Regions from separate parts of the Homo sapiens genome. Here regions 2, 3 and 4 are each linked to region 1. The links come from fine-mapping of genetic effects on gene expression. A gene starts in region 1. Each other region holds a variant in brackets. All regions are shown on one strand. Distances are between the middles of the regions. Region 1 holds the start of CTSL (cathepsin L). Region 2 has its middle 77 kb from the start of CTSL. Region 3 overlaps LOC112267903 (a long non-coding RNA gene). Region 4 has its middle 68 kb from the start of CTSL.

Region 1 (8,105 bases):
CTCCGGTCTTTGGCCATCTTTACGTAGCCACCCATGCCCCATTCTTCACCCCAGCTGAAAAAAGAGCAGGTTTTCCATTTCAGAGAAAGAATAAAGCCCAAAGGGTTATTAACAGGAACACCCAACTTAAACACTGTGCCAGAGGCCATAGACTTAACAGAAAGAATCAGGACAGGCAATGTTCCTGTTTATCCTTAAAAAATTCTTGACATAACCTGGACATAATTTCCATCCCAGCCTCCAAACTGTGACCTTTCACAGAACTACAGATCAGAGACAGGAAAACAATAGGATGTCTTTGCAGCCAGATATGCCTCAGAATTTAAAAACTGTTCAGATTTAGATACACCTTTATACAATGGAACAAATACTATATTCATACTCCCAAGATATTTGTGACAGTTTCTTACTTTTATAATCAAACATTAATATTATATGTTCAACTTAGACTTCTGGGGATTTCAGAAGTATGCCTAAGGGCATGTGGAACTGTATCCAAACACTGTTTGCAAATAAGTATTCTCTTTTGAATTTCAAATGTAAGTATTTCTGGCAATTTATACCTGTTCTTCACCAGCCAATATTTATTGTTATCTGATTCTGTGCTTTCAAATCCGTAGCCAACCACCAGCACACCATGATCCATGTCTTCACTGCTACAGTCTGGCTCAAAATAAATGCCTGGGATGGTAAAATGAGGGCTGGGGTGAGAAGCTCCAGAGGACACATGACAGTAACCCATCCTGTCACCCACAGGGAATGAGGCATCTCTGAATTCAGTGAAGTGACACACATTCCAGATAGTACTTAACAACAATAAGAAGGCCAGGGATTTAAGCTCTCATTTACAACTAGCAGAAATAGAAATCAGCATAAATCCTTCATTAAAAAAAAGCTTTCCTAGAGGAAAAAAAGACCCCTCTTTGTAAGCTTGTAATTCTACTCTAGGATATCAATCTAAAAAAATAGCACAGAACACTAAAATCCTTGAATCAAAAGGCTCTTTTCGGATTTAATAATAGAAGTAAAAATCTTTGGAAAAATTATAAAAATCCAACAATTGCAGAATATTTTAAGTATATTAAACTACACAGTAAATATAGCTATTTATAAAAAGTTATGAAGTACTTATATTCATGGAGATATACGCAACATAATGTCAAATGGAAACATCAGGTATAAATATTGCATGTACAGAATGAACAACTATGATGCTAAGCACCTAAATATCTACACTGAACTTTACTTGCAAACCAGAGTCTATCATGCTCGTATGTCATGATACTCTTTTTCTGCATCAATTTCTACAAAGAAAAATATGCTTACCTTCTTTATAGAACAGGAAGGACTCATGACCTGCATCAATAGCAACAGAAATGGGCCCCACAGTTGCAACTGCCTTCATCAGGGCCTTCTCCTGCTTAGGGATGTCCACAAAGCCGGTGTCATTAGCAACAGAATACTTGGGATTGTACTTACAGGATTCTTCCTTTCAAAGGTAAAGGGAAAAAAAAGACTTGATTACTGCTGTCCTCCTCCTGGAGAACATGAGTTAGAACCACAACACTCAGCAGTGTGCAGCTTAGTATTTCCAAGTCACCACTGTTATAAATCATCCCAGGAAGTGAAATGCTATTAGTTAATCTGAAACTGAAAATTGACTCCAGTCTCTTCAATGAGACCTCTGGGTTTACTTCCATAAGACATTTTTCACAATAGAGAAATGTGTATATTTAGAATGGCTTGTATATTCTTCACGTTACATAGAAGCAAGAACAGCTATATGTTACCCATCTAATCACAGGATTGTGCAAAGGCTAATAATTTATAATGACAGTACTGACAATTTGCAGATATATATTCTGCCATCTAATATGTGAACTTTTTTTTTTTTTTGGAGACAGGGTCTCATTCTGTCACTCAGACTGGAGAGTGCATTTGCACAACCACCTCCCACACTCAAGCAATCGCCCTACCTCAGCATAGCTGGGACCACAGACGCACACCACCACAGCCGGCTAATTTTCGTTGTATTTTTGATAGAGTCAAGGTTTCACCTTGTTGCCCAGGCTGGTCTCAAACTCCTGAGCTTAAGCCATCTGCCTGGCTCAGCCTCCTAAAGGGCTGGGATTACAGGCGTGAGCCACCCCACCCAGCCCTAATATATGAATTCCGAAAAAGGTATCTGTTATCTCTTAAAGTGTCCACCTTCCAAAAGCTGAGCTGGAATGATGACAAGGAGCTCCACTTACTGTTGCCTCATATGGATAGGATTCCTCAGAGTCCAGGCCTCCATTATCCTGAACATACTGGAAAGCATAATCCATTAGGCCACCATTGCAGCCTTCATTGCCTTGAGGCCCAGAGCAGTCTACCAGATTCTGCTCACTCAGTGAGATAAGCCTCCCAGTTTTCCGGAACATCTGTCCTTCAAGAGCACCAGTAGCACTAAAAGCCCAACAAGAACCACACTGACCCTGAAAAGGGAATTAAAAAAAGCTGTCATCCACAAAAAAAAAATAATAAGACTTTGACAACAGCTCACACATCTGAATACTGTTAAAAAGTGAACTGTACATCACTTTAAAGTCTACCAAAACAAAGATGTCAATCACTTCTTGGCTTTCCTGGGAAGATGGGAGGTCTGAACCTGACACTGTCTCACCTGATTCTTCACAGGAGTCACGTAGCCTTTCTCTCTCCAATCCACAGATCTGGGGGCCTCATAAAACAGAGGTTCCTGGAACACTTTCCCCTTCCTGGGCTTACGGTTTTGAAAGCCATTCATCACCTGCCTGAATTCTTCACTGGTCTTCAAGGAAAAGGAAATAAAATGTTGAAAAGCAAGAGATTACCTTAGTAAAGAACCGAAGAGAGGAAGCACAGAGCTCGGCAGTCCACAGCACACTTACCATGTCTCCAAAGGCGTTCATGGCCATTGTGAAGCTGTGTTTCCCTTCCCTGTATTCCTGATTGTGCAGTTCAATCATCTTCATGTTCTTCTCCCACACTGCTCTCCTCCATCCTTCTTCATTCTAGAGGCAAACATGTAACTGATGCTCTTTACTTCTACCTAAAACCCAACTCATCCTCACCAAGTGAATCTGCAGACAGAGATGGAAGAGAAACCATGGCAAGGGAAGGCTTGACACCTCTGGGGATGCTGTTCTCCAAACTGAGACACAACAAGGATGAATGTCCACATTGTGCTCATAATCCACGCCATTAGGTTATTACATTAGGCTATTGGTAAAAGCTGGCCTCTAGAAGCTACTCTCTGACTAAAACTTCTCAACAGCCAGGACTATTCTTTCTGGGGAAGTTTCACTAACCATGCCGTATAATCTGTTGTGCATCGCCTTCCACTTGGTCCACTGTGCCTCTAAACTGTGATCAAATGTTAGAGTAGCTGAGGCAATTCCCAGGCAAAAGGCAGCAAGGATGAGTGTAGGATTCATGTTTTAAAACCTAGGAAGGGAACAAAAATGAGGATCTGATTAGACCAATCCTAAAAAGCCATCTTACTGCCCCCTGAAAAATTAGGGCCACCATGGTAGAATAAAAATATTTAAATTATTCTCCCAAGCATTTACCCAAGGACTGTGGAAGAGGCCAAGGATGTGCCTGGAGAAAAACAGGGCACGTGGAGGTACTGGATGGACTCACCAAAATGAAAAGCAGCCTGTCCAGAGCTGTAGGAGCTGAAACAGTTTATGCGATGACAATTTAGGTTATGAGAACGGTATGAAACTACCTTGTGTGTGAGAAGCTTAAGGCAACAACTAGGAAACCGGGAAACGGTTGATCCAGGTTTTGTACCAATCGCAAAAAATCCAGGTTTCGTGCCCAGGCAAAACCTCACTAATGATAAGGTGGGATTCCCAAGTAGGGACAAAGAGATCCCCAAGAGTTAGGAGGCCTTCACACATCTTCCTGACTAACAAACACCAAAAGCTGAGATAAGTTTTCCAATCTCTCCTATTTATTTATTTATTTATTTATTTATTTATTTATTTATTTTTTGAGATGGAGTCTTGCTCTGTGGCCCAGGCTGGAGTTCAACGGCGCGATATCGGCTCACAGCAACCTCTGCCTCCCGGGTTCAAGCCATTCTTCCTCAGCCTCTTGAATAGCTGGAACTACAGGCGTGCGCCGCCTCGCCCGTCTAATTTTGTATTTTCAGTAGAGACGGGGTTTCACCATGTTGGCCAGGCTGGTCTCGAACTACTGACCTCAGGTGATCCGCCCACCTCAGCCTCCCAAAGTGCTGGGATTACAGGAGTGAGCCACCGCGCCGCCCCAACCTCTCCTTAAATGAAACCTTTCTGAAATGCTTTCCCAGGAAAAACTGGGAAGGAGAGCACGCACTGCTCCCTCCTTCATTCACTTGGGCCTGTGCTGCCGACACCCCAAACTGCTCCCCTAAATCAGGGACGGGGTCATATGGCCGCACGCGGGAAGCCAGCGCCCTGCAGCCAGCTTCCAGGGCTCCAGGCGTGGCAGGGCCGGGGACATGACGCCTGCGCCACACACTGGCTGTAGCGGTCAGAGGATGTTTGCGGTGACGCCAGCAGGAGTACCGCTGTCTGGCGTGCGGGGACTGAGCTTCCCTGTCTGGCCGGGCCAGGCCCTGAGTCGGCGCGGCGCGGCCTGGCTGCGGTACCTGTGTCCACCCGGCTCGGAGGCTGGCCTGCCCGCTCAACCAGTCACGCGCCTCCGCGGGGTCCTCAACTGCCCTCCCCGGCTTCCCCACCTCAAGGCCAGCAGAGTTCGGGGTAGACGCTCTCGTTGCCAGGGCTGGTGCACACCTACTCGACCGCGTCCTCTCTTCCAGTCCCTGTCCGGCCACAGCTGGGCCTGGCCGGCGGCGCTTTCCTGCTGCGGTCGTAGCTGCGCAGGCGCACTCCACGGATGCCGCTCAAGGTTGCGGAGGTCGCGGTTCTGGCCCAGCTTCGCCTGACTCTGCTTCTAAAACCTCGGGTCTGGGTTCGGCCGGCACCGCCCCGCCGCCTGGCTGCGCTGCGATTGGCTGTGCCGGCAGCTGGGCGGGGACTCTGGGTGCTCTGATCCCTGGCGCGGTTCGTGGCTTGTTTACTGACTGTCCCAGAGCTGGGCGTGCCTGCCTCAGTGGACCTGGAGGAAGCAGAGCTGGTGCCCCGGGGCGGCGCAGAGTAGGGTCGGGCGTCTCCCTGGAGCGCTCGAGTCAACTAAGTACACGACTTACTGCACTGGGCGAGTGGCTCCTGAAAAGACGTTTACCGCAAGCCCTGTGTGGACTGTTTCAGCCTAACCTTGCTATTCCTTAGTCCTGGAATTTTTGGTCCGCAGAGCCGAGAGTCAAGTGTACTCTAGTCCAGTGGCTCCTGTTTAGTCCACAGCAAACGTGGGGCCGGGTGGACGAACGCAGAGCCCGCGGGCAGAAGCCTTATCTCCCACTTAAGGGTGGGTGCAGCTGGGCTTTAGAAGAATCTGGTAAGGAAAGGCATCCCCAAAACACGAGATGCTATCGTCAAGACCAGACCCTAGGAGGGAGGAGACTGGCTGCGTCTCCAGAGAGCGCGGGCGTTTTGTCAAGCATCCTTTCCAGACTCCTCCATTCAGGGATTCTTCCTTCTCCCACGTCTTACCCAAAACCAACAGAAATGAGTTATTTACAGAAACATTTGGTTGACAGGAGAAAAGCAGTTGAGAACATTAGAAGCTGCTTTTATTCGCCCACTCTCTAGGCTATGGATTATATCTTCCTTGGTAACCAAGTCGTTCTCTTGAGATTTAAGAAATTTAATGACATTTAATGTCAGGATTTAAGATACAGAGAATGGAGAAATGTTGTAGATAGAGGAAAAATATGTATCTTAATCTGTATAATGTAGATATTAATTTATGTAATTAAGGATTTAAGGAACAAAACCCACAAACATTCTAAACTTTTGTCATTTCATTTTTTATTACATAAAAACATTCATTGTAGAAAATACCTTTCGGGGAAAAAAATAATTACCTCTGCCTTTACCCCATAACCTTTTCGTATGCATATTTTGACTTTGTTAAAAATGAACAAAGTCCATTGATTTCTATTGAAGATTAAACTGATAACTCTTTTAGAAGCACAATCACCTATAGTTTTTTAAGTGGTAAAATATACCTCACATAGCAAGTACCATTTTAACCAACTTTGAGTTCAGTAGCATTAAGTACCTTCACATTGTGTAACCATTACTACTGTTTATTCCCAGAGCTTGTTTATCTTCCTAAACTGAAACTGTATCCATTGAATAATAGTTCCCCATTCCCCCTCTCCTAGCTCAGGTATCTACCATTATATTTCCTGTCTGCAGGAATTTGTTTACTATTTTGGAGATTATTCCTCTTTTTTTTTTTTTGAGACGGAGTCTGGCTCTGTTGTTCAGGCTGGAGTGCAGTGGCGCAATCGCAGCTCACTGCAATGTCTGCCTCCTGGGTTCAAGTGATTCCTCTGCCTCAGCCTCCAGAGGAGCTGGGACTACAGGCGCGCACCACCACGCCTGGCTAATTTTTGTATTTTTAGTAGAGATGGGGTTTCACCATATTGACCAGACTGGTCTTGAACTCCTGACCTCGTGATTCGCCTGCCTTGGCCTCCCAGAGTGCTGGAATTACAGGTGTGAGCCACCGTGCCCGGCCGATTATTCCTCTTTTTATGCATTGCTTCTCTGGAGAACCAGTCACAATGTGTAGAATACAATCTAACTGTGATATCTGTCCTAGTCTCTTTTCTGTTGCTAATAACAGAATACCTGGAACTGTGTAATTTATGAGAACAACATTTATTTCTTACAGTTTTCGAGGCTGGGAAGTCTGAGGTCCAGGAAGTGTATCTTGTGAGGGCCTTCTTGCTTGTGGGGATTCTTTGCAGAGGCCCAAGGTGGTGTAGGGCATCACAGGGCGAGAGGGCTGAGTGTCCTAGCTCAGGTCTCTTCCTCTTCTTTTAAAGCCATCAGTCCTGCCTGGGCGCAGTGGCCCACACCTGTAATCCCAGCACTTTGGGAGGCCGAGGCAGTCAGATCACTTGAGGTCAGGAGTTTGAGACCAGCTTGGCCAACAGGGTGAAATCCTGTCTCTACTAAAATACAAAAATTAGCCAGGCGTGGTGGTGCACACCTGTAATCCCAGGTACTTGGGAGGCTGAGGCGGGAGAATCACTTGAACCTGGGAGGTGGAGGTTGCAATGAGCCGAGCCGAGATCACGCCACTGCACTCCAACCTGGGTGACAGAGCGAGACTCCATCTCAAAAAAAAAAAAAAAAAAAAAAAAAGCCATCAGTCCCATTCCCAAGATAACCTGTTGGTCTATGAACCCATTATTCCATGAATAGATTAATGTATTCATTAGGGAAGAGCTCATATGTCCTAATCACCTCTTAAAGGCCCCACATTTTAATGCTGCCACATTGGAGATAAGTTCCAACAAGAGTTTTGGAGGGGGCAAACAAGGAAACCATAGCAGTATTTAAATTTATTATTTTATGAAATAAAAACAATATTTCTGTGGTGTTAGGTAACTGGAGTACCTACGTCTGCCTTGGTTCTAACTTTGCAGATTTCAGGATCACAAGAAGTTCATTGGAACAGCTGAATGTTTCTACCGGGGGCTTAGAGCTCACTTGGTCCTTCATGAGTTCCTTACTGGGGAGTGTGAGAGAAACTGCTCAGATGGCCTCCCCTTCCCCAAATTTGAAAGAGAAAGAGAGAGAGTTGTGAGTGAGTGGCTTTGCTCTCCAGCACTTGCTTAGTGAAGAGCCTCAGAATCTGGACTGTGGCCTCCCAGTTCTGAGGAACCCCATTCGCCACCAGGAGGGGTGGCATGTTCACCCCGTTATTCAGGAAGGAATTGGAAAACAAACAATCGAGGGTGTGAGGTCAAGAGCTAGAAAATCGCAAGCCTCTGGCACCTGAGCCAGGGCAGATGCTGGGAGCACCTGCAGGATACTCCCATATTCTGCCACCTTGGTACTTATCAGCCTCTGAGAACTGAAGCCGGACCCTTTCTTTGCTTGAGCAGAAGATCAGACCAAAGAGCTCATTGACTCAAGGAGCATCATGGCAACTGGGCTGTACCCGGAGGG
Region 2 (8,105 bases), 76 kb before region 1:
GACTTTAGCGTCTGGATTAGCCATAATGGGATGAATTGTTTGCCAAGCATTGCTAATCACAGTCTGTCTTCCTTGTGGGTGAACATAAATCCCCACACAAATAACTGCTTGGCACCTGGGCACACCCGGTACTGGAATTTGGTTTTTGAAAATGACAGCTGTCACAGCGGCTTCTTTGGAGAATGCATCGCTGAGGATTGTGGTGGGAGTTCAGGAGCAGACAGTGCCTGCGGAGGAAGCCAGGAAGGGGCTGACCTGCAGTTCTGACTCGGGTCACCTTGAGCAGGAGACAATGGGGCACGTGATGTGGGAGAGGGAAGGGGAAGAAGAGGTCATTCACCCTTCAGAGCATCTTAGGACCATTTTCTTCCTTTCCATGTCCTTTCTCTTGATATTTCTCGGTGTTTCTCACTGGATGCCTTTGGGGATTTGGGTGAGTAGGAACTCCTGTCCTTACAGGATATTTCTTGTCTGTGGCTGCCAAGCATCTAACATGCTAGCATCCCCTATAGCCCCATATTGTGAAAACCAAAACAATACCTACACACATTGTCTGATGCCCCCTGGGTTGCTGCCATACTCTGCAAGAGCCACTGTGGAGCTGGATCAGAGTAGATCTCACACAGTGGTGGGGAGAGGTCTGTATCCGGAAGAGCTGAAGGAGGTGGCCATGTTATTTGGTTTCCAAATGGGCCAAATGAGCAAAAGAAATACTTTCTGTGTTCCCGGCTCTCATCAGTTGACATTGCCTAGGAATGTGTTTTTAAACTACATTTGCTAGAGAATCAATGGGACTGGGCATCTGGAAAGAAAACCAAAGTCTTCTTGTTTCCCTGGACCAATGGAGGATGGGCAGGGGAGAGGGACTAGCTGTTTTCATTATTAGACAGTGCAGGGGGCTGCCCCATGGGAAATAGGACCTTGCAGACAGGGCATTCCAGGGGCCCAAGTGAGCTCCCCAAATGGGTGGGGCAGGACAGCATTGAAGGTGACTGAGGCCAAGGTTGGAGTTCCCGGGGAAAGAAAGAACATGGGCCAGGGGCTGATCTGTGTGGGATCTACTCTGAAAGTTCACAGGAAGTGAACTAGGGCAGTGGTGTGCAGGAGCCTCCAGTGATGTCCCTGAGAGCCGTGCATGTCTTCCCAACTCAGTGACATCACACGGGGTACTTGAAATCAGCCAGGGTGGGAGCATTTACACCACAAGAATCAGCAAATGCTACAGATCGATGCCTGCCTGCCCACCAGAGGTAGCTGACCAGTTCACCATTGTTTTAGGGGTCTCTAATAGCCCCCACACCTCCACCCTGGCTGTAGGTACCACCTTATTGCAGAAGGAGGTTGCACCTTCTACTCCTCTGTGCTCACTGCTACCAATAAAACAAAGCCCAGTGCAGCTGAGGCAGGATAGGTAGTCAAGGAAATGGCCATGTTTTTGGGATGCAGCAACCACAGTTACCAGTGACCGTACAGCCAACACAGTAAGTCTTAGCATTTGCATTGTAATTGAGCTCACACAAGCAACGCTATCTTCAGTGGGGAGTTTCCCTTCTAGACAGCATGCACATTTTGATTTTACCTCTCCTCAAAATGACCCTTTGCTCATAATTGTAAAAAACATGGCCAGGCGCGGTGGCTTACACCTGAAATCCTGGCACTTTGGGAGGCCAAGGCGAGTGGATTGCCTGAGCTCAGAAGTTCAAGACCAGCTCGAGCAACATGGTGAAACCCTGTCTCTACTAAAACGACAAAAAATTAGCCGGGTGTGGTGGCGTGCACCTGTAATCCCAGCTACTCAGGAAGTTGAGACAGGGGAATTGCTTGAACCCCAGAGGCAGAGGTTGCAGTGAGCCAGAATTGTGCCACTGCACTCCAGCCTGGGTGACAGAGCAAGACTCCATCTCCAAAAAAAAAAAAAAAGAAAAAAGAAAAAAACCACCACTGGGTAGAGATTTAAGATGTTAATGAGACATGGGACATATGAACCAGCATGTACAGTTACTACACATGTGCACCCAGAAGACCACCCAGAACATGCTTATTAGCAAAACCTCTTCCCACCTCCCTATTAATAATCATGTAAGACTCCCATAAAGGGGGTTTCTCCAACAACGATCAATGCTGTCTCACCCTCTCACCCTAAGGAGCAGCCGCCCCGAACTCCCTCTCTCTAAGGGTGTACTGTCTCTTCTGCACCTAACTTTCAAAATATTCTTTCTCCTTTGCAATAAAATCACTCTATGCTTCATCTCCTTTGCTGTGTGCCTTTTGTTTAAATTCTTTTAAACCAAGAAGACAAGAACCGAGGTGTCACATCGGCCATCAACACAGCTATCCATATCTGCCTGAGGATGCTGGTGTTGCTTAGCCAAACCCAGTTCTCCTTCTAAAAGAAAGGAGGGACTCCTTCTATGACAGGTAGTGATGGGGGATGCATCTTGATTTTATATCAGCATCCATTTTACTACAGTCGCTGCAAGTCCCATTCTTATCGGATTTTAAAATAAGAGTTTCAGGAGTTGGCATATTTTTATTCTGTTTGATTCTCCTTCTAATCAGATTTTCCATGAGCTGATATTAAAAGTAGTGTGCCTTTACTTCATCAGATAGTGAAGAAAGGTGCCCAGGAATATTTTGAAAAGTGAAAAAAAAAAGGGGGAGTTTGCCCAGAATGAAAAATTCACCACCTGCAAGCTGCATTTGCATAATTAAGAGTTGCTGCTCCATCCATGGGCTCTCACTACACCCTGCCACGTGGGCGGGGCCACATTGCCTCTCAGCGCTCTTATCTGGCCTTCCCAGACCGTGGATGGTCTCCTCATTAGCTTGCAGATGTTTAGTCCTCTTTTCTGATGAGAAAAATGAAAATAAATTGCCACAGTTGGTGCTGGAATAAAGGAAACTAGAAACTAGGAGATCCACCAGGGCTTCAAAGAGCAATGCTGTTACCAAATAACACTGATTCACTCATGCACTGAAAAGATATTCCCAGTGTCTACTGCATGCCAAGAGCTGTTCTGGGCACTGCAGAGACCACGGTGAACAAAATCGGCAGAACCCAGCCAGGAAACAGATCAGAAAAATGCCAGATAGCATAAGTTGAATCAATGGGTGATAAATAACAGCCTACAACTCACCACCTGCTTCTGTAAATAAAGTTTTATTGAGACACGGCCACACGCTCTTGTCTACGGCTGGTGTTCATACATGGCAGAGTTGAGTTGCCACAGAGACCATCTGGCCCTCTACAGAAAGGGTTGCTGCCTCCTGGGGTAGGTGCCATGCAGGGAATTGAAACAGGATGAAGTGAGATGAGAGGATGGTGGAGTCTACTTTCACCTGGCTGATGAGGACCTCTCTGATGTGACACTGAAACCAAGACCTGAAGGGCAAGAAGAAGGAAGCAGCCCGAGGAAGGGCTGGAGGAAGACAGAGGAATAGGGAGTGCAAGGGGCCAGGTAGTGAAGGGTTGGAGGAGCTCAAGCATAAAACAACAAAGAAGGAGGGTAACTGGGCTAGGGCCAGAGGATGGGCCTGGAGGTGCAGGCAGAGAACGATGCGCGAGCGATGTGACCCCGACGACGTGACCCCGACGACGTGACCCGAGAGGTGGCACGGCTTTATAGACCTTACC[T/C]GGGGGGTGAGGAGACTGGGTTTGGGCCAAGTGTGTTAAGCTGGCTGGTGCGAGATCTGCCTTAGGTTTAGGAATTCCCCCAGCTGCTCAGACTGGAGCCTCGGGGTCAGGAGGTGGAGCAGAGGGACCTGATAGGAGATGATCTTGGCAACCAGGGGAGATGTGACGGTGCTTGGACTGGGGCTGTCCAGGCTCTATTACTTAGTGAGCCTTGGGCAAGAATACATGTGGGACCCTCCATAGGAGCCAGGCCCAGTGGGAAGGACCTAGGGAGTCCTGTAGCTGGTGCTCACCCGGGTTCCAGACGCTGTCCACAGAGCCTGTCATTTGACTGCCAGGATCTGTGCGGTCCTCTCATGAGCCCATTTCAGAGGAAAGTAACCCAAGGCTCAGAAGTTCGAGGTGGGTCTTCCCAGGCGAGAGGAACACAGCAGATGGGGGCCTCCCCTACAAGCTGCAGTGCTCTGTTGAGTATGAGGAGGGGAGGGGGGACATTGACTGTCATTTAAAAATCAGGAGATCACACCTAAAAATGTGGATATTTGGCTTCTTGTGGGAAGCCTGTTCCACACTGGATGCACCTTCCTCCGTGGTGCTGGGTAGCGGGGAGGCGGCAGCTGCTCCACTTAGAGGGACACAGGCTCTGATTTCATGATGTTCTCCACCTGCACTCCAACTCCAAGAGTCAAGAGTCCCTTGGAACAGGAGAGAGACCTCAGAAGCAGGTCCTGCCCCTGGTGTGAAATTCTGCTCTGTGATGACATTCCCAACCAGGGGAGAAGGACAGTACCCTGCGCAGAAATGCATTGGAGTGTGTGGGCCCTGGTAAGGTCATGCCTAGTCAATGTCAGAGGCAACATTCAGTCTCAGAGCTCTCTAGCAAAGCCATGCAGCCTCTGGGAGGACCTGGCAAGAACAAGAGATGTGTGCAACCCCATGGAGGCCCCCATTGCTTAATGCCCAGGTGGTCCATTGGCTCCAGAGGGGTAGGCAGAGTGTTATCCAGTACCTGGAAATAAGGAGCTTCACCTACAGTTAAACCAGCATCTGCCTGAGGCTGTAAAGAGGCAGGAGGCCGTGCACACAGGCCCCATAGCACCTTTTCCTCCTGCCCGGTGTGGGGAAAACTTGACCTGGGGTGTGCACCTGCAGCCTTGAGTCTGAGGGAGCCCTGGATAGAAGGCACAGCTCAGCAGCTGGACCCAGAGGTGGATGGGAAGATGCCACCAGAGAAGATGCCACTAGCCCTGGGCCAGGCAAGTCAACAGTCACTTGATGCTCTTAGAGCCTGTGCATCAGCACCAGACCACACCCCACAGGCAGGGGACTCCTGTTCAAGTGGCATGAGACCAGCTGGGGTGCTGCACAGAGCACGCCATGGTTGCTGGATGAAGTAGTCCTGGGAAGATGTAAAGCTTCACCCTTCAGAAATATTTGAGAGCAAGGAACATACTGAAACATTGAAAGAAAACATTCCCTACATCTGTATCTCAGCATCAACTATGACTTTCTGTCTCTAATGAATAGACAGAATCAGAGTCCATGTGCATTTTGTTCTCTGGAAAGTTGGTGTCCCCTGAGCTCCCCGGAGCAGAACTGGCTGTGGCAGCAGAGAGAGGAGAAGCTTGTCCTGGGCCCCCAGATCCTGCCCTCGAATTACAAAAGTAATTCCAAAGTGACATTGTGGAATATTTAGAAAATTCAGAGAAGTAGAAAAACCGTCACTAACAAAATTATTGAAGGACATAAAATAGTAGATGAAAAAAATGGAAGGAGATTGCTATCCCTGATAGCAAGATAGGACTGGATGTTTCAATTTCTCTGAGTTATATAAATTTAATAGAGTTCCAGTTAGCATCTGAATGGGACTAAGGAGATTGAGTTTCCTATCTTATAACTTTAATAGAAGAATAAATAAAACATTATAAAGGCTCTATAATCAATATGATTAAATAAGTTATAGGAACAGCCTAGAGAGTATAGAAGTCAATCATAATATCTACAGAAATGTTATAGAAAGCAAAATATGTTATTTCAATTTAATGGGGAAAATGTTTGTTTGATAAGCGATCTTGACACAGCTGGCTATTTGCCTAAAGGTAAACAACGTTGAACTCCCGCTCACTACAGAGCATAAAGATAAATGGATTAGAGCTTTTCACCGTGAAATGATACAACAATCTCTTGAATGGAAATTTGGGAAAACTTGTTTTTAAAATGACTTGGAAGTTTAGAAACCTTTTAAAACCCTAGATATGTTTAAAGAAAATGTACATATTTGACACACTTTTAAAAAAAGACTTTCTGGCAAATATATTCCACAAAGTTACAAAGTGAAATAGACCTGGAAAAAAATATTCTCAATGCATTTCACAGCTAGAGGGTTACTACTACCCATAATATTCAAAAAGCTCTCCAAAATTAGTAAGAAAAGGGCAGACATCCCAGTGGAAAGTGGTAACGCGTTCTCAGAAGGTTCCTACTGCCCAAGCCTGAGTGTCAGCTCTGGGCCCCTCTGCTGTCCAGCAGGGGCCACCTCCTGTTATGGGCCCCCCTTCCAAAACCCTGCACTCCCGACAGCAGGCGCTGGATCCAGACATGCTTTTGGAATTCTCGGGAAACACAAAGGGAGTAGTCCGGCGAGGCCTGGGAGGAATCTGTCACAGAAACCAGGGGCGGTGATCTAGGAACTAACAGTGGTCTGTCTGTGAGGGCCCCTGCACTTCCCCACCAGGTCTGGATTGGGGCTGCATTCCTGAGGCAGGAGGGAGTGTCCCTGGAGATTTTTGAGCTGGGCTGTGGCATGATCTGCTGCTTCTCAGATACCCCCCACCCAACCCCTAAACTCCTGAGCTCAGGCAGGTGGAGCCCACCACGTCAACTGCACTCACCCCTGAGAATCCTGTTTTGGGAATAGGGAGTGGAATTTAGTTGATATAAAAGGATTTGAGAGGGGAGTGTGGAATTAACGGCGCAGTGCAGGGCATGGCATGTGTGGTTTCTAATCAGGAGGTGCGTCAATTATATGAATCTGTAACATAGGCTGATTTATTTAACCAACTTAAAAGGTTAGAAAATCATTTCAAGCTAATTACCAAGAATTGGTCTAATTTGAAACAATATTTCAACAACAGTCCCCATGAATGCTAATTTACTGGTCAAAACCCACTCTGACATTGATGATGATACTCATGCTCTTTTCCTCTTTTTGTTCATAAAGTGGTCATTACATGAGTGAAACAGTCACAGGAGGGAGAGACAGCGAGGGAAGAAAGGAGGGAGGGAGGAAGAAGTGAGGGAGTGAAACATTAGGAGTTGGTGAACATTAGTTGATTGAGTGACTGAGTCCACAATTCCAAAAACATTCTTGGAAGACTCAAAATCTGTTTAATAGATTTCCAGTAGAACTGAAGAGCCTCTATAAAACCTTATATTTGATAAATTGATTCCACTTGATGGTAACTAAAATAATAACTGTCCCAGTACTCAAGCATAAACGTGCTTATTTGTTCACCAAATCACCTGCAAGGCACCTGAATGAAAGATGTCCTCTCCACCGCAGCTCCGCTCAGGGCACCCACAGCTGCAGGTGAGTTAACCTGTCCTGCCCTGCTTCTTCTAGGTCTGCCCTCCCATGACTCACCTGTGTGAGAAAATCATCTCCATGCTGCCTTCCTGGTGGAACCTCAATGGACCCAACCAGCTGATGTCACTGCAGCAGTTTGTGTGCGAAGTGCAGGACCAGCTGAACCCTCTGGTCATCCAGGGGTACCCCAGGTGCATTGCTCAGCAGCTCCACAGTGCAGGCGAGGTGAGCCCCTAGTAGTCCAGGCAGGAGGCTGTGAGGAGCACCAGGAACTCACATCTGTCCCAAATTCCAGTTCTTGGAGGTGGTATGAGCCTTGGGAGGCAGTGTGGAAATGGGCCAACTACTGATAATATTTCCAGACATGTGACAATCACGTACAGCCTCAAGTGACGCTCTGAACTGCAGTTCTCGGCTCACCTTAGAAGCTGTCATTTTGTCTTGTGTGTTGCTTTTGTTTCCAGTGCCTGATAGTTTTGGAGTGCAGTGCCCGCTGCCCTGGGTGACTGGGTCCCTCTTCGCTCCCCCTGGGCACCTGGTACTAACCTGCTATTACTGGCAGCCTTCAGGATGGCTGCTTTCCATGCGGTGTGGAGTTACCAGCTCCAAACAGGCCTCCTGGGTGCAAAAACCATTGAGAAAAGGCAGTAAGGTGTTCTCATGGAGACAATGTTTGGGGGACCTAAGGCAGAGAATGTGTGCGCAGACACAGAGGGTAATCATAATTCAAGGAACACATTCAACCCCCCAGCAAGTGATTCCTGGAAGAAATGACCCAAAATAGGAGGCTTTGCTCCAGTTGTGTGACATTCAACACTGGGGTGCGGTTTAAAAACCCAGCCATAGAGCAAAAATGCAAAACCAGTTATCTTGTAGAATGTTCCT
Region 3 (8,105 bases), 110 kb before region 1:
TCTTCATGTTCTCCCACACTGCTCTCCTCCATCCTTCTTCATTCTAAAGACAAACATGTAACTGATGCTCTTTATTTCTAATTAAAACCCAGCCTATGCTAACCAAGTGAATCTTCAGACAGAGATGTAAGAGTAACCATGGCAGGGGAAGGCTTGACACCTCTGGGAGATGTTCTCCAAGCTGAGACACAACAAGGGTGTATGCCCATATCGTGCTCATAATCGGTGCTATTAAGTTATTGCATTAGGTTATTGGTAAGAGCTGGCATCTAGAAGCTACTTTCTGGCCGTATGATCCCAATAGCAAGGTCCATCTCTCTGGGGTTCCCCTGGACAGTTTCAGATGCCACCAACCATGCCATATAATCTCTTGTGCTTTGCCTTCCACTTGGTCCATTGTTCATCTAAACTGTGGTCACGTGTTACAGCAGCTGAGGCAATAGGCAGCCAGGAAGAGTGAAGGGTTCATGTTTCAAAAATCTGGGAAGGGAAAAGAAATGAGGATCTGATTAGACTAATCCGAAAAAGTCATCTTACTGCCCCCTGAGAAACTAGGGCCACCATGATAGAATAAAAATATTTAAATTATTCTCCCATGCATTTACCTAAGGACTGTGGAAGAGGCCAAGGATCTGGTTGGAGAAAAACAAGGCAAGTGGAAGTATTGGATGGACTCACCAAAATGAAAAGCAGCCTGTCCAGAGCTGTAGGAGCTGAAACAGTTTTATGGGATGATAATTTAGGCTATGAAAAGGATAGGAAGGTACCTTATGGGCGAGAAGTTAAAGGCAACAACCAGGAAACTAGGAAACCGTTGGCCCAGGTTTTGTACCAATTGTGCTGAGGTCATCCAGGCAAAACCTCACTAATGAAGACATCTAATTTCAAGAAGGGACAAAGGGATCCCCAATAATTGGGAAGTCACTTCACACTTTGTTCTTGGCTAATGCATAGCAGAAGGTGAAGTATGTTTTCCAAACACCCCTTGTAACGGAAACAGTTCTTGAATGTCTTCCCAGGAGAAACTGGGAAGGAGAGCACCTATCTACCGCCGCTCCCGCAGTCCTGCAGTCCTGCAGGGGCCAGTCCTGCCAACACTCCAACTCCCCTCATAGAGCATAAACCCAATCAGGTGGCCGAACCGCCAGAAGCCAGAGTCCCCAGTGTCCGCGCCCACACAGGGGTAGGCAGCTTCCCAGGCTTTGGGCTGGGGACCCAGGCCAGGTCCCCTGCCTCTTGCTTCCACCCCCCGCTCATGCTCACTGTGGCCCCAGGAGGTGGGTGGTGGTGCAGGGAGCAAGCGGCGCCTCTGCCTGATTTGCCCGGGTCGAGCCTCCCTGTCCCACCCCACCAGCCCTGGGAATACTGCGGCCTGGCACTCCTGAAAATCCCTCACTCACCGAGCTGAAGGACTTGCTGGGTCCCTGGTGGCCCCTGTCCAATCTCAGCCCACTGGGGTCTCAGCTGCAGTAGCCACAGGTGGACAGGCACAGTGGGCAGGTGCCGAGTCCAGGAGTCTCCCGTCGCCTAAGGCCGCCCGAAAGCAGCTAATTGACTTCTTAAGGCTGGGCGGGACCTTCCGGCGGGCTGACTCCTAGCCTGTGGAGCGGCTCAGTCCACTTGCCTCAGTGGAACCGGGGGGAGGGGAGCTGGGGGCTACGAAGAGAAGGGTCGGAGGTCTCCCTGGAGGGTTCGGATCAACTAAGTACCTTATTTAATGCCCTGGGCCGGTGGTTCATGAAAAGAAGTTTACAGGAGCCCTGTGTGCATTTTCAGCCTAACCCTGCTTTTCCTTTAGGCCTAGAATTGTTTATTAAAATCTCCTGCAGGGCCGAGAGCCAGAGGACTCTAGCCCAGTGGTTCCTGTTTAGTCCACAGCAAAGAAGGGGCCGGTTGGAAGAACTCACAGCCCGCAGGCAGAAGCCTTATCTCCCAATTAAGGGTATAGAAGAATCTGGGCATGTTGCTGGTGGCTCATGCCTGTAATCCTAGCACTTTGGGAGGCTGAGGCAGGCAGATCACTTGAGCCCAGTAGTTCGAGACCAGCGTGGGCACCCTGGCGAAACCCCGTCTCTACTAAAAATACAAAAATTAGCCGAGTGCGGTGGCCTGCGCCTGTGGTCCCAGCTAGTCGGGAGGCTGAGGCACGAGCATCCCTTGAACCCGGAAGATCGAGGCTATAGTGAGCCGAGATCGCACCACTGCACTCCAGCCTGGGCGAGAGGAGACCCTGTCTCAAAAACAAAACAAAACAAAAAACAGCAAACAAAATACAACTGGTAGGAAAACGCACCCTCAAAACACATGATGAGATGGTCAAGACCAGACCCTAGGAGGGTGGGGACTGGCTGGGTGGGTATCCAGAGACCATGGGCGCTTCATAATGCATTGTTTCCAGTCTCCTCCACTCAGCGATTCTTCTTCCCCTGAAGTCTTGCATTAAGTAAGTGAATGAATCAATCATCAAGAGTTAATGAAGCTCTGACTTTGTACATATTGTCCTTTGCTTGGTACAGTTGGGGACTGCCTTAGAAACAATCTCCAGGTAACTTTTCCAACTGCTTTTGTGAGGCCCAGTTTTCCATTTTAAAATCTAAGATTAACTCAGTAATCTTGCTTTTACAGCAAGTGGGCATGGAGCCTGACGGATATATTTAAACTAAGTTATGGACAAGCTGCTTGGTGCATTAGATAGCACAGGAGATAACCTTGTGGGACATCCCACATTCGTAATATCCACCCCTAAGTCTATAATCAATAAATGCTTGTTTGGAGGCCATAGAAACTCTTCTCGAGATCTGACCTGTGTCTTCTGCCATCTACCTGATTTCTCCCCATAGAGTAGGAAAACACTGTGTAGGAGATACTGTGAATAGAAATATGAATATAGGCTGGGTGTGGTGGCTCACGTCTGTAATCCCAGCACTTTGGGAGGCCAAGGTGGGCGGATCACCTGAGTTCAGGAGTTTGAGACCAGCCTGGCCAACATGGCGAAACCCCGTCTCTACTAAAAATACAAAAATTAGCCAGGTGTGGTGGTGGGCGCCTGTAATCCCAGCTACTCAGGAGGCTGAGGTATGAGAATTGCTTGAACCCTGGGAGGTGGAAGTTGCAGTGAGTGAGATGGCACCATTGCACTCCAGCCTGGGCAACAGAGTGAGACTGTCTCAAAAAGAAAAAAAAAAAATTACAAAAATTAGCCAGGCACGGTGGTGGGCGCCTGTAATCCCAGCTACTCAGGAGGCTGAGGCAGGAACAACTGCTCAAACGTGGGAGGCAGAAGTTGCAGTGAACCAAGATCACACCACTGCACTCCAGCCTGGGCAACAAGATCAAAACTCCATCTCAAAACAAACAAACAAACAAA[T/ATAAAT]AAATAAACAAGAAGATGGATATGTTGATAGAAAAATAAAAGACATGAAATATACAACCTACAAAATAAAAATGATCAATAAACTCTAAAAAGTTTACCTCACTCATAAAAATAGAAATTAAAACAAAAAAGAGGTCTTTTTTCCACCAAACTGATGAAGTTGAAAAGACAATACTATCTTGTGTTTGCCAGAATAAATTAAAAAGAACCCTCTTATCACTGACGGTAAAAGTATAAATTTATGCAACCTTTCTGGAGGAAAACTTCAATATGTATAAAAAGATTTTTTACCCAGTAATTTAATTATTTGGAATTTCTGTTGAGAAAACAATCAGAGAATCATGTATTTATGACCTAGATTGTTAATCTCAGGTTGTTTTGTTTTTCAAAAAGTTAGGAGCCATCAAAAGGATAGTAAGGGAATATTATAAACAACTCTACACACATAAAATTGATAACTTAGATGAAATGGACTAACTTCTCAGAAAGCACAGTACTCTAACTCACCCAATATAAAATAGATAATTTGAAAGACTAGGTTCAGGGCTCAACTATTAGAAAATAGAATTCAAAAAAGAAATCTCCAGGCCCGGATGGTTTCACTAGAAAATTATACTAAATGTTCAAAGGTTATTCAATCTCTTCCAGAAAAGAGAAGAGGAAGGAACATTTTTCAATTCATTTTATAAAGTCAGCATTACTCTGATACAAAAACCAGACAATGATAGTAAAACTGACCCAATAATCTCATAGACTGTTCTTTCGGATAAACATAGAAACTGACCTTTCTGTTCTTAAAGCTTGAAGCTTACATTTGTTTTATATGAATTCCTTCCTCAGGAAAGGAACTTCAGACCTCTCAAAAAGAGTATTAGAGAACTGAAAGTCACCAGATCACCACATCCTGACAATGAGAAGCCTGGAGCCCTCATTCCTCATTATTGCTTCCTTTCCCCTCTCTAGTTCCTGTATTCTTGCACATTGTCACATTTCTTCTCTGTTATATAAACCTCTAGTTTTAGTCTGTCAGGGAGATGGATTTGAAACTGAGCTCCCCCATCTTCTCAGCTGCAGCACCCAATTAAAGCCTTCTTCCTTTGCAGTACTTATTGTCTTAGTGATTGGCTTTTTGTGTGGTAAGCAGCAAGGCCTAGACCAAACCCCTGGTGTTTTGGTAACAATAGTTCCAAAAAAACAAAAACAAAAGACTACTACAGACCGGCTGGGTGCGGTGGCTCACGCCTGTATTCCCAGCACTTTGGGAGGCCGAGGTGGGTGGATCACGAGGGCAGGAATTCAAGACCAGCCTGGCCAGTATGGTGAAACCCCATCTCTACTAAAAATACAAAAATTAGCCAGGCGTGGTGGTGAGTGCCTGTAATCCCAGCTACTTGGGAGGCTGAGGCAGGAGAATCGCTTGAACCCAGGAGGCGGAGGTTGCAGTGAGTCGAGACCGCACCACTGCACACCAGCCCGACAACAGAGCGAGACTCCATCTCAAAAAAAAAAAAAAAAAAAAGAATACCAAAGACCAAGATCCCTCATCAATAAATGAAAAAACCCTTAACAAAGTATTGAGAAGTAGAATTCAACAACACATAAGACAAATTATACACCATGACTGAGTGGGATTTATTCTGGTAATAGAAGGCTGGTCCGGTATTCAAAATCAGTCAGTGTAATCCACCATATCAACAGGCTAAAGAAGAAAAATCATATAATTATATCAATTGATGGAGAAAAACCACTTGAACAAATTCAAAACTCATTCATGACTTAAAAAAGAAACTCGCTGAAGTGGGAGGATCACTTGAGGCCAGAAGTTTGGGACCAGCCTGTGCAAAGTAAAAAGACCCTATCTAAAAAAAAAAAAAAAATTAGCCGGGTGCAGTGGCTCACATCTTAATCCCGGCACTTTGGGAGACCAAGGCGGGTGGATCACGAGATCAGAAGATTGAGACCATCCTGGCTAACACAGTGAAACCCCGTCTGTACTAAAAATACAAAAAATTAGCTGGGCATGGTGGCACACGCCTATCGTCCCAGCTACTTGGGAGGCTGAGGCAGGAGAATCACTTGAACCCAGGAGGCAGAGGTTGCAGTAAGCCGACATTGCGTGACTTCACTCCAGCCTGGGCAACAGAGCAAGACTCCATCCCCACCCCCCCCAAAAAAAAAATTAGCTGGAGAGGTGGGTGGTGGTGCATGTCTGTGGTCCCAGCTACTTGGGAGGCTGAGATGGGAGGATCGCTTGAGCCTAGGAGTTGGAGGCTGCAGCGAGCCATGATCACACCCCTGCACTCCAGGCAGAGCAACAGAGTAAGACCCTGTCTCTGAAAAAAAGAAAATCTTAGAAAACAAGAAATAGAGGAGGAGCTTACCTCAACCCTATCAAGTACATCTACAAAAATTTATAGCTAGCATTAGTATTTAATGGTGAAAGAGTGAATGCTTATCCTCTAAGATCAGGAGCAAAGCAAGGATGTCCTCCTTCACTACTGTTACTCAACATATGTAACCCTGGAAGTCATAGTCAGCACACTAAGGCAAAAAAAATAATGGAAGGGAAAAAGATTGGAAAGCAGGTAATAACATTGTCGTTCTTTGCAGATGTCATGATGATCTGTATAGGAAATCCCAAGGAATTTACAAACAAAAAACCAAAACACTCCCTAGAATGAGTGAGTTCAGCAAAGTCACAGGACACAAGATCAACATACAAAACCAACTGGATTTCTATATATTAGCAATAAACTAATTCATAATAGTAATTAAATTTAAAATATGTACTTTAATCACTTAAAAAATGAAATAGTATTATATAAATCTAAAAAACGTTTGTAGGATTCTTATGCTGAAAAGCACTACATGTATGCATGTATATATTTATGTGTGTGTATAAACTTGCATATATATGTATCTGTGTGTTTGTCTGTATTAATTAAATGCAATGATCATGGCCCAGATTGTGTTACATGGTGGGAAAACAGACATGAACAAGACGGAGTGGGTACCTCCCTTCAGGTTGCTTACAGTGTAGCTTGGAAGTCAGACACTAAACCCAAGAATGAAAATGTGTTGGGAGCTTCAAAGAAGTAGCCCTGGATGCTCATGGCATCAAGCACCTGGAATACCAAATCATGAGGTCAGAGCATAGGGGTGAGACCATTCAGATTTACAAGGCTTCTAACTCTACATCACCAGAATGTCCTCTAATTCTAGATATCTGGAGGAGAGAGGCTGATTGGGCCATTCTAGGTCAGGACTCTCTCTCCTACCCCATCAAGAGTGTGTGTGTGTGTGTGTGTGTGTGTGTGTGTGTGTGTGTCTGTGTGTTTGTGTGGTGGGAGGCGTGACTCAATATAAACGTAGCAGCTAAGAGTTCTAATTTTGGATAAGGGGGTGAGGAAGAACCATTTGCACTGGCTGGATGCACCAAAGGCTAGAAAAAAACTAGAAAGAGGACCAAGATTTAAAGAACCAGAGGAAGAGGAGCTGTGGGGAAGAGAAGCAAATGAGGAGCATCCACAGAGTCAGAGAGAAAGCAGAGTCAGGGCTTCCTGCTGTTGAGTGAGTTGTGCAGCTGTTCCAACTGCAGTAGATTGTTCATCTCAGGTTGTTTTTTTCTCAGAGTTCTCCCACTGAGCCATGAAGGTGACAGTGCTATGTGCCTCAGATAGCTGTTGAGTGTGCAGAGTGAGACGCTGCACCCTCCGCTCAGTGATCTGAGTTGTGACTATCATGGCTCAGGAGTGCAGCTTACGATTTTAGCATCTGGGAGTGCTTTTCTTGGCAGGCTGCAGACACATGCGTTTGGAAAATAGGAAGAAATCCAAAAATGGCCTTTGCCATAGCTCAGCTAGAATTGTCGGTAACGTGGCAACTCATTTTCTCTGGATAGATTTGTGGCAGCTTAAAATTCTAAGAACTGCACTTTCTTCAGTGGTTCAAGGAGATCTGAATCCCATGCCTCTGACAAAGGGTTCTCTCCTGAAACAATAACACACCGTGTTTCTCTCCTTTCTTCCACAGACCTCAGAGGACAAGCCTTCTGAAAGGGATGCCCTGCAGCCTGGCTGCAACATTGTGACCATAGTTTATACACTGTACAGTAGCACAACCCTGGTGGCTCTCTCCACAGGGCAAGGGGTGGACCTCTTCATGCTTGACTTGGTAGGTACAGAATATGGCAGCCTCTGGGCTTGGGGACTTGATGGGCCTCTGTGCTTTAATGCTAGTCCCCTGGGATAATTTCCTGGTCATTCCTAATACTTGTTTTTGGGGCCAGAGAGTCTGAAAACCTAGTTTTGGGAGCCAACGCCATCATCAGAAACCATGAAGGGCCTTTGTCCCAGTGAGGGAACCCGGGGTAGGGGTGTCCTGCAGAGTCAGTTGCATCAACTCAAGCCCTGTCCTTAAGGAGTTCATTTTTCAAAAATGCACTCGATCTCTTTGGTTTATGAGAACTCCATGATTTAAGAATCGTAATGCTGCGAATTTCCAGACAGAAGCATGAATGCTTTAGAGCAGCATCATCCCATAGAATGCTCTGTGAGTTTTGCTTTTAAATGCTGGATGCCTTGTTTATCACTTGTGAAATGCTTTGCCAAATACACTGAGGTCTTGTGAAAACTCAGATAATGTTGACCAATGACGACTTCAAAACCCCTTGTGTTCACTTAGATGAAAGGTCTGTATTTAAATTTAATTTAGATTTACAGATGTTATTGAGCATCTA
Region 4 (8,105 bases), 67 kb before region 1:
TTTGACTCTTTTACTTTCCATTTATCCTTTAATAATCCTAACAGTTCCCAAGATGAAGGCTACTTCTGGCTGAATCAAGGACAGGTTACCAATAAGAAAGTCAACAAGAAATGAACATTATTATTATCTTCATTCCTGTTACAATTAAGGGGCTAGGGAGAGGAGAGTGGGGAGTTAGTGCTGAATGGGTTAAGAGTTTCAGTTTTGGTTGAAGAGAAAGTTCTGGAGATGGAAGGTGGTGATGGTGGCACAGCAATGGGAATGAGCTTCATGCCACTGAATTGTACTCTCAAAAATGGTTAAAATGGTCAACTTTATGTTATGTCTATTTTACCACAATAAAAATATTAAGTTGGTTCCCAATAGGCAGGTGAGTAAGAAAAACTTGCCACCCCTTGGAGAGAGTACAAGAGGCTGGTGCGGTGGCTTATGCCTGTAATCCCAGCACTTTGGGAGGCCAGGGAGGGCAGATCACCTGAAGTTGGGAGTTCAAGACCAACCTGACCAACATGGAGAAACCCCATCTCTACTAAAATTTCAAAATTACCTGGGCGTGGTGGCGTGTGCCTGTAATCCCAGCTACTCGAGAGGCTGAGGCGGGAGAATCACTCGAACCCAGGAGGTGGAGGTTGCAGTGACCCAAGACCATGCCATTGCACTCCAGCCTGGGCAACAAGAGCGAAACTCCGTCTCAAAACAACAGCAACAACAACAACAACAACAACAAACAGAGTACAAGAACAAGTTGGGCCCACCAATAGTGTGAGCTTTCCCAAGAACAGTGGTGATAGCCTGGGAGACTGGTGAGCATAACAAGGGTGCATCCAGGTACCTGGTTCTAGCGTGTGAATGTGGCAAGCCAGCCTTGACTTCTGCCTTCCCAGAGTGTTCTAGAAGGTGAGCTCTGAGAAAGCAGGGGTGAGCTCTGGGTCTTGCATGCTGCAGCCAATTATCTGTCAGTCCTTGCAAACTTTGTAGGCTGCAGAGTGGTGCCTGGAGGGAGATCCTGCAGGGCCCAAATTTTAGCCGGCACTCAACTCTTCAAGCTGTGGGCCCTCAGGGCTGTGTCTGTCCACCCTATGCAAAGCCTCTGGATGGGTGATCCTGGGCACTAAGTCTTGATTATTCTAGGAATGCTGTCTGTCTCAGCCTTGATGGGATTTGTACCTAGATTATGCAGATCCCTCTGAGTTCATTGAACACTCCACCATGCAAATTGTAAGGCATCAGCCAAGAACAGCTACCTCTGTAACAGCAATGTAGAGAACTCATGGGGGAGGAGGATGGGGTGTGGGAAAGAAGGTCACCAGCCAGGAAGCATTACCCCATGGCTGAGTGCACGTGACCGATGAGTGAAAATGCCCTAACCCATCAAAGAGACTCTGACACTTTCTTTTCTATGTTTGTTAACCTTTATCCTTGCTAGTGCCTGAATAGAACTGGACATTAAAGTATGGCCATGGGAATTACAGCACAAGCCTAAGGAGAAATTGTAAACTTAAATTCTCCAGGCCTCATCAATCATCTGTCATTTCCTTTCATTTCCTGGTATTTCATTAGAAAGGAACTAATTAGCTCCTTTCTGTTTCACCCATGCTGCCCTTGAGCTCAGTTACTCCACCACAACTTCCCAGAACTACCACATTCCTTTATCTTTTTAAAACAAATTTGGATTAAATGCCACCCAAAAAAATCTAGTCTTTTTTATTCTTCAGGGAGCCACTCCTCCTCCCCATGGTTGTGAGGCGTCCTGGGGTCTTCTGAGCAGTCTGTCTTTTGCTGCCTTTGGTCACTTCAAGATGTCTGACCTGCCTCCCCACCCTCCATGCCAAGCCTGGCTGTGGAAATAATCCAGATCCTATGTGCTCTAAGCCCAGCCACCAAGGCATGAGTGCAAGCAGGCTACAGCCCTCGGCCTCCTGCAGAAACTCCTGCCCCTCTCGCAGTCTTGGGGACAACTATTCTCCTCTCTTCCTCCAACCGCACTAGGCCAGGAACAATTAATTTCTTGATAACATTGACCTCTCAGCTTATAGGGGAGGTTTTCAAATTGGCTCCTGCGTTTGGAGAATGTTTTACCGTCTTCAGAGCTTGACTTTCAGGACCATTGTGGACACAGAAGTCTATTTGGGAAGAATAGACTATTTGACCTATGGCTGAATATTGATTTTTTTATTTGCATGTCTGTTGTTAAAATCCTTGTCTTAAGTCAGAATTTTAAAAATCAGTTGATTTTTAAAATCCTTTGATCTCTTTCAGTGCATCATACATATCTGGGGGCACAAAAAGCAGAAACAACAGGGGAGAAAGCAATGAGGATGGGAGCTGGTTTGGCTAGGAAATCCCAAGGGCACAGGAACTTCTTAACCCTACATCGAACCACAGAAGAGAGCTCAGCAGAGGCAGCCTGTTGACATGGCTTCAGGTCATGTTTACAGCCTCGTGTCCCTATCTGTCCGTCTCTGTTCTAAGACCTCCCAGGTCTCAAGAGCTTATCACACGCCCTGTTACTTTCCTGTGTTTTCTGACAATTCTGCCTAAAATCTTCAGTGGTATGTCTTAAGGCAAGACCCAACAGTGGTGTTTCCATGAGATAGGGGCACTATTAGATTCCAAAACACCTTTAAGAAGAATAATAGTAGCTCTATTCTGGAGTTTTTTTTTGGTAACCACACTTATCTCTTTAATCTTCAAAATACCCACAGAGGTAGGCAGTTTAATTCCCCTTTTACAAGTGAGGAAATGTTGGCTCCATAAGTTTTAGAGACTTGCTCAAAGTTACATGCCTGTGAAGAATCTGAACCATAATTTATTCTCAGAACTATTTAATTCCAAAATCAGCAGTCTTAATTACTCTTTATTTGTTCATTTGATTATTGTCTGTCTCTGCCTGTCAACCATGGTGCTTATAACTTGCCTGACATCACATACATCCTAAATAAATATTTGTAGAATAAATGAATACTATCTCCCCTGAAAACCTAAGGACTGGAAGCATAATGGTGGCACTGCAAGCCACTGTTTTGTTTCGTAGTCCATTGAATTATCAGAGCCAGTGTCCTTGTGGCCCCTAAGGAGTCCAGACAAATCTGTGGCTCTCTGGTACAGGAGTGGAAATTCCTAGTTGCCCTGCAGAAACAATTCATGTTGAGACTTTTTAAGGACTTTATTCTTTTTCTGTTGTTTTTGTAAATATCTTGCACACTATATCAACCAGCTCAACTTATTACAAAGCTGAAAAATGTAAGTAAAGTATAAATCATAAGCAAACCCTTGTTCAGATAGAAGGAAAATTAAGTCTAGCCTCAAAAGATGTTTTCTTTCCCGTAATATCCATGTATTTAATACATATGGCCAGCATTGTTTCTTCTATCAGCAAACCACAGTCACATCTATAGGTGTCTGACTTTCATTGACTTCAAATGATTTCTGACTTTGTGGCACCCTCAGCATCTTGTCTCATCCCTCCTCTTCTCCTCTTAGATTCAGTCCCTTCTCTTGAGTTGGGAGGTTGTCTGGACAGTGTCTTTGCCATCTGCACTGCTCCTCTCCCCAGCCACCCACGTGCATTTGCCCTGCTGTCCTTCAGTGCATTTCCCCCAGGATGCTCTGGCCACACTGACCAGGTGTCTCCGTCTCTACCACTTCTCTTTCCCTGAATGCTGTCCTGTGTTTTCTGGAGCCTGTGAACTTCTTGTGAATGATAAATACCAAGAGCTTCTCAAAATGAGACCCCATGTTCTAAACAGAACCTGCAGTCAGGATTCCAGGGAAGGTCAGCGGGCTCCCACCCCCAGAAGCACTTTGCTGTGTAAAGCATTATGTATGGAACAGAGAGATCACCTGGGGCCTTGGAAAGACATTGAGGAAGGGGGCTACCGGGTTACCAAGTCTGAATTTCTGAAGATAGTTATACTAGGGATGAATTCAATGTAATTCATGAATTATTCATGACTCTCTAGACAGGTTAATGAATGTTTCTTTTAGCCCCTCAGGACTGGATCTCTGAATTGGTGGGGAGCTTCGTGAGAGAGGTCAGGGGGAGTTGGGAGGATACTGATGGAAGTGGGGAGGCCTGCGGTCACCCTGAACTTGCTTGTCTAAAAGTGATGAGAAGGCCTCACCCAAATGCAGGAGCCATGACCCTGACCCATCACTGCCCCACGTTATAGGAGACAGGACTTGACCATCCTCCACAGGTCAGAGCTATTGTCAATCAAGGTGACAGTGCAAGATGCGTTCCCACTCCTGACTCCACCCAATTGCTGTAAATAGAGCCCCTGAGTGCTGTTAGCTTATTTCGAAACGGGGAGACAGTTCAGCAAATGTTTCATCACACTTAACATTTGCTGAAAATACTAACACATTCCCCACTCAAAGATGAGTCACCGTAAGTAACTCAAGGGCACTAGTCCTGCTCTCCACATAAGGGAATATTGGTCCTGAGTAAATGGGACCATATTTAAAGGTAACAAAAGGGATAACATGGGAGATGATGGTGGGATTCGTATCCCAATGACTGCTTTGAGTATATTCTGGCTG[GC/C]CAGTGGGTTTCAGTTCCCTTATCTAGACAAAGAAATGCTCCTCATGACTGGCAAAAGCAGGAAAAGTTTTTATCATCAGCTCTATACCAAGGCTGCCGAGCCACTAGAGTGGTCTCTAGAAGACAATGTCATCAGCAATCACTGTTAGCAAGGAGCTTGCTTCTGTAGTGCTGTGTTGTTGCTAATAGTTTTTGTTACAGCAACTGCAATGTAGAAGACTTGATTCAGGGAAGGCAGAAACCGAAACTCGTGCCTTTGAGAAGGTTATGAGCAATGAAGACCGTTAACACCCACCCTCTGCAGGAGGAAGCTGGAAATGGCAAGAGGCACCGCCCATGGCTAGAGCCCCAGCACATGGGTCATGACTCATACTGTGCAGGTCAACTATGGGCCCTGCTTCCTCAGGCCTTGGTTGTGGATCACGCCCTTGATTCTTCCCTTTTAGATGCAGCCCAGTTGCTATGATGCTCCTTGAGTCAATGAGCTCTTTGGCTTGAGCAAGGAAATGGTCTGGCTTCACTTCCAAGAAGCTGACAAGCACCCAAAGGTCTTTTTTCTTTTCTTTTCTTTTCTTTTTTTTTTTTTTTGAGACAGAGTCTCACTCTGTTGCCCAGCCTGGAGTGCAATGGTGTGATCTTGGCTCACTGCAACCTCTGCCTCCTGGGTTCAAGCAATTCTCCTGCCTCAGCCTCCCGAGCAGCTGGTATTACAGGTGCCCACCACCGTACCAGCTAATTTTTGTATTTTTAGTAGAGATGGGGTTTCACCAGGTTGGCCAAGCTGGTCTCGAACTCCTGACCTCAGGTGATCCACCTACCTCAGCCTTCCAAAGTGCTGAGATTACAGGCGTGAGCCACTGTGCCCGGCCCGAAAGGCTTCTTTAGGCAGGTGACAGGACACGGGCGTATCCTGCAAGTGCTCCTAGCAAGCTCTGGGTTTTTGAGCCAGAGGCTTGGGGTTTTCCAGCTCTCAACCTAACATCCCCAAATGTTTGTGGTCCAATTCCTCCATGAAAAACAGGGTAAACACGCCACCCCTGCCAGTGGAGAATGGGTTCCTAAGAGCTGGGAGGCCCGAGTCAGATCTTGAGGCTCTTCACCAAGCAGATGCTGTTGAGCAAAGCAGCAACTTTCTCTCTCTCTCTCTCTCTCTGTCTTTATGTTTGGGAAGGAAGAGCCATCTCAATAGTTTTTCTCACAATTTCCTTTAAGGAAATTGTCTAGGACTCAGTGAAGCCTCAGACCTGTAGAAGATATGAACTGTTCCAAAGAACATATCTGGATTCTGCAATCTGAAAAGCTAGGACCAAGGCAAATGTAGGTACCAGTCGTCAGGAAGTGAGTACTGAGCATGTTAGGAAGAAATTTTTCAGAGGAGGGAAGCAAATAGTGAAGGAGACTCACCCCACTGTTATTCAGAATCATTTCAACTGCCCTCAACTTGTATCCTGTCAGATGGAGGAGGGTAGCCAACCTTACTCTTGAGGCTGAATCAGCCTTCTCTTTGGGCCTTAAAAATAACACTCATAAGAGAATGTTGTTTGTCCTCCCAGCCCTGCAGAGATTTGCATCCATGAGGGAAGCATGGCTCAGTTATAGGCAGACATCAGCACCGTGTGGTTCCCTGCTCTTCATCCACCTCAAGGGAGCATCAGGCACCACACATCTTTACATCTTTGTCTATTTGCTGAGACCCTGTGAGTGTAGCATCAGCAGGTTTTATAAGCCAACCAGTTTCTTCTCATTCCTCTTCACAGAATAAGAAAACTGGAGCTTAGAGAGGTCAAGAAGTTGTGCCCTGATTCTCACACTGGAAGGAAGCCCTGAGAACCTGCACCCATCCCCACCTGGCCTCCCTCACCTACTTGGGAATAAGCCCAGGAAACACAGGCTGATTCTGGGATGATGTTGGAGAGGCCCTACATCCTGCAGGCACTCCCTACTCCACGGTACCCAGTGAGTCAAAGGCTTCTAGAAAGACATTTAGTCACTCAAAGCTGCTGCAGATCCCAGTGTCCAGGGAGGAACTTTCACTCTGGAAAACAGGAGCTCATTTCCCTTTGAGGAAATCATTTCTTTAGGATATCATTTCCAGCCACCACCCAGGATCCTGAGCAGGTGCTGCAGCTCCCAAAGCACCACTGGCGTGAGAAGGTCAAACCTTACAAATACCATGTTATTGTTCCTGTGGAGGACTGCTTCTGCCAGAGAGAGTCCTATCAATACCTCCAATGAGGTGTGACCTTTTTACAAAATGACCTCAACATTCTTTACTGAATGATGACTGTGTGGCCTCTCTTATCTGTTTTTTAAATTCCTCCTGTCTATCTTAAATTTCACATCTTTTGACCAATACCTTCTTAACGACCCACTCACAAGTCCCATGCAAACACCATCCTACTCTCTACTTCTATGAGTTCAGCTTTTTTAGATTTCACATATAAGGTCGATCATGCACTATTTGTCTCTCTGTGCCTGACATGTTTCACTTAACACAATCTCCTCCAGGTCCATCCATTTCACGCAAATGACAGGATTTTCTTCTTTTTTAAGTCTTAATAGTATTCCATGGTGTATATACGTCACCTTTTCTTCATCCGTTCATCTGTTCATGAACACTAAAGTTGACTCTGTATCCTGGCTATTGTGAAGAGGGCTGCAGTGAACCTGGGAGTGAAGATAGCTCTTCCATGTACTGGTTTTCATTCCTTTGAAGATAGAACCCGTTCTGGGACCTCTGCATTATTCAGTAGTTCTATTTTTTGAGGAATCTCCACACTATTTTTCCATTATATGTGTAGTAATTTGCATTCCCTATATCCCTATTATTATAGGTCAAACACAAAATACAATGGGTTATATTTTAGGTCCTATTGAAACAGTCTCAAGACATGTATACCTAATTTGATAAGTTTGGGAGCATAATTCAATAATATAAGGAACTGTATCTTCGCTTTTAACATATATGCTTACCCACCACAATAACATTATAATTAATTTCACCAATTTGGTAACCTGGCTCATGGGAAGAAAGAAATAAGTGAGATTACCTGTGCATCAAATCCTTGAATAAATATTTTCTTAAATAACCAACACCTCTGGAAAGATTCTATCTTTGACCCCATAATAAAGGGGTATAAGATTAGCCCTACTGGCTGGGCACGGTGGCTCACGACTGTAATCCCAGCACTTTGGGAGGCCAAGGCAGGTGGATCACGAGGTCAGGAGATCGAGACCATCCTGGGCAACATGGTGAAACCCATCTCTACTAAAAATACAAAAATTAGCTGGGTGTGGTGGTGGGTGCCTGTAGTCCCAGCTACTTGGGAGGCTGAGGCAGGAGAATCACTTGAACCTGCGAGGCGGAGGTTGCAGTGAGCAGAGATCGCACCACTGCACTCCAGCCTGGGGGACAGAGCGAGACTCCGTCTCAAAAAAAATAGGTTAGCCCTACTACATGCAAATGTTTACATATCTCATTTAATCTTCACAACGATCCTGTGAGGAAAGTAGAATTGTTATGCCCATTTCCTGAGTAATGAAACAGGCTAAGGGGAGGTGT

What was found. PIP is the estimated chance that this variant, and not a neighbour inherited with it, causes the effect.
Region 2: its variant is fine-mapped to the expression of CTSL in whole blood (TOPMed, PIP 0.99).
Region 3: its variant is fine-mapped to the expression of CTSL in whole blood (INTERVAL, PIP above 0.99).
Region 4: its variant is fine-mapped to the expression of CTSL in whole blood (INTERVAL, PIP above 0.99).

What each region holds. Positions count from the first base shown.
Region 1 is chr9:87,722,957-87,731,061 of GRCh38, reverse strand. It overlaps CTSL (cathepsin L), which reads right to left and starts at 4,943. Exons shown (of 8, transcript NM_001912.5): 1 at 4,664-4,943; 2 at 3,333-3,468; 3 at 2,913-3,035; 4 at 2,666-2,812; 5 at 2,253-2,477; 6 at 1,327-1,489; 7 at 564-681; 8 at 1-54. The coding sequence starts at 3,458. RefSeq lists promoters at 3,626-4,046, 3,626-4,665, 4,870-5,080, 4,919-5,100, 3,458-5,100 and 7 more, cis regulatory regions at 4,047-4,280, 4,281-4,426, 5,002-5,003, 5,026-5,029, 5,040-5,043 and 12 more and an enhancer at 4,631-5,152.
Region 2 is chr9:87,798,847-87,806,951 of GRCh38, reverse strand. It overlaps the pseudogene LOC100420576. Among named protein-coding and RNA genes, the nearest start is that of CTSL, 77 kb to the right of the region's middle. RefSeq lists an enhancer at 6,221-6,721. The variant T/C (reference allele first, on the strand shown) is at 3,635.
Region 3 is chr9:87,836,518-87,844,622 of GRCh38, reverse strand. LOC112267903 (a long non-coding RNA gene) reads left to right here. Exons shown (of 6, transcript XR_930087.2): 6 at 1-106. It also overlaps the pseudogene FBP2P1. Among named protein-coding and RNA genes, the nearest start is that of SPATA31E1, 42 kb to the left of the region's middle. The variant T/ATAAAT (reference allele first, on the strand shown) is at 3,368.
Region 4 is chr9:87,789,744-87,797,848 of GRCh38, reverse strand. No RefSeq gene overlaps it. Among named protein-coding and RNA genes, the nearest start is that of CTSL, 68 kb to the right of the region's middle. RefSeq lists enhancers at 4,141-4,435, 4,361-5,560 and a cis regulatory region at 4,603-5,112. The variant GC/C (reference allele first, on the strand shown) is at 4,543.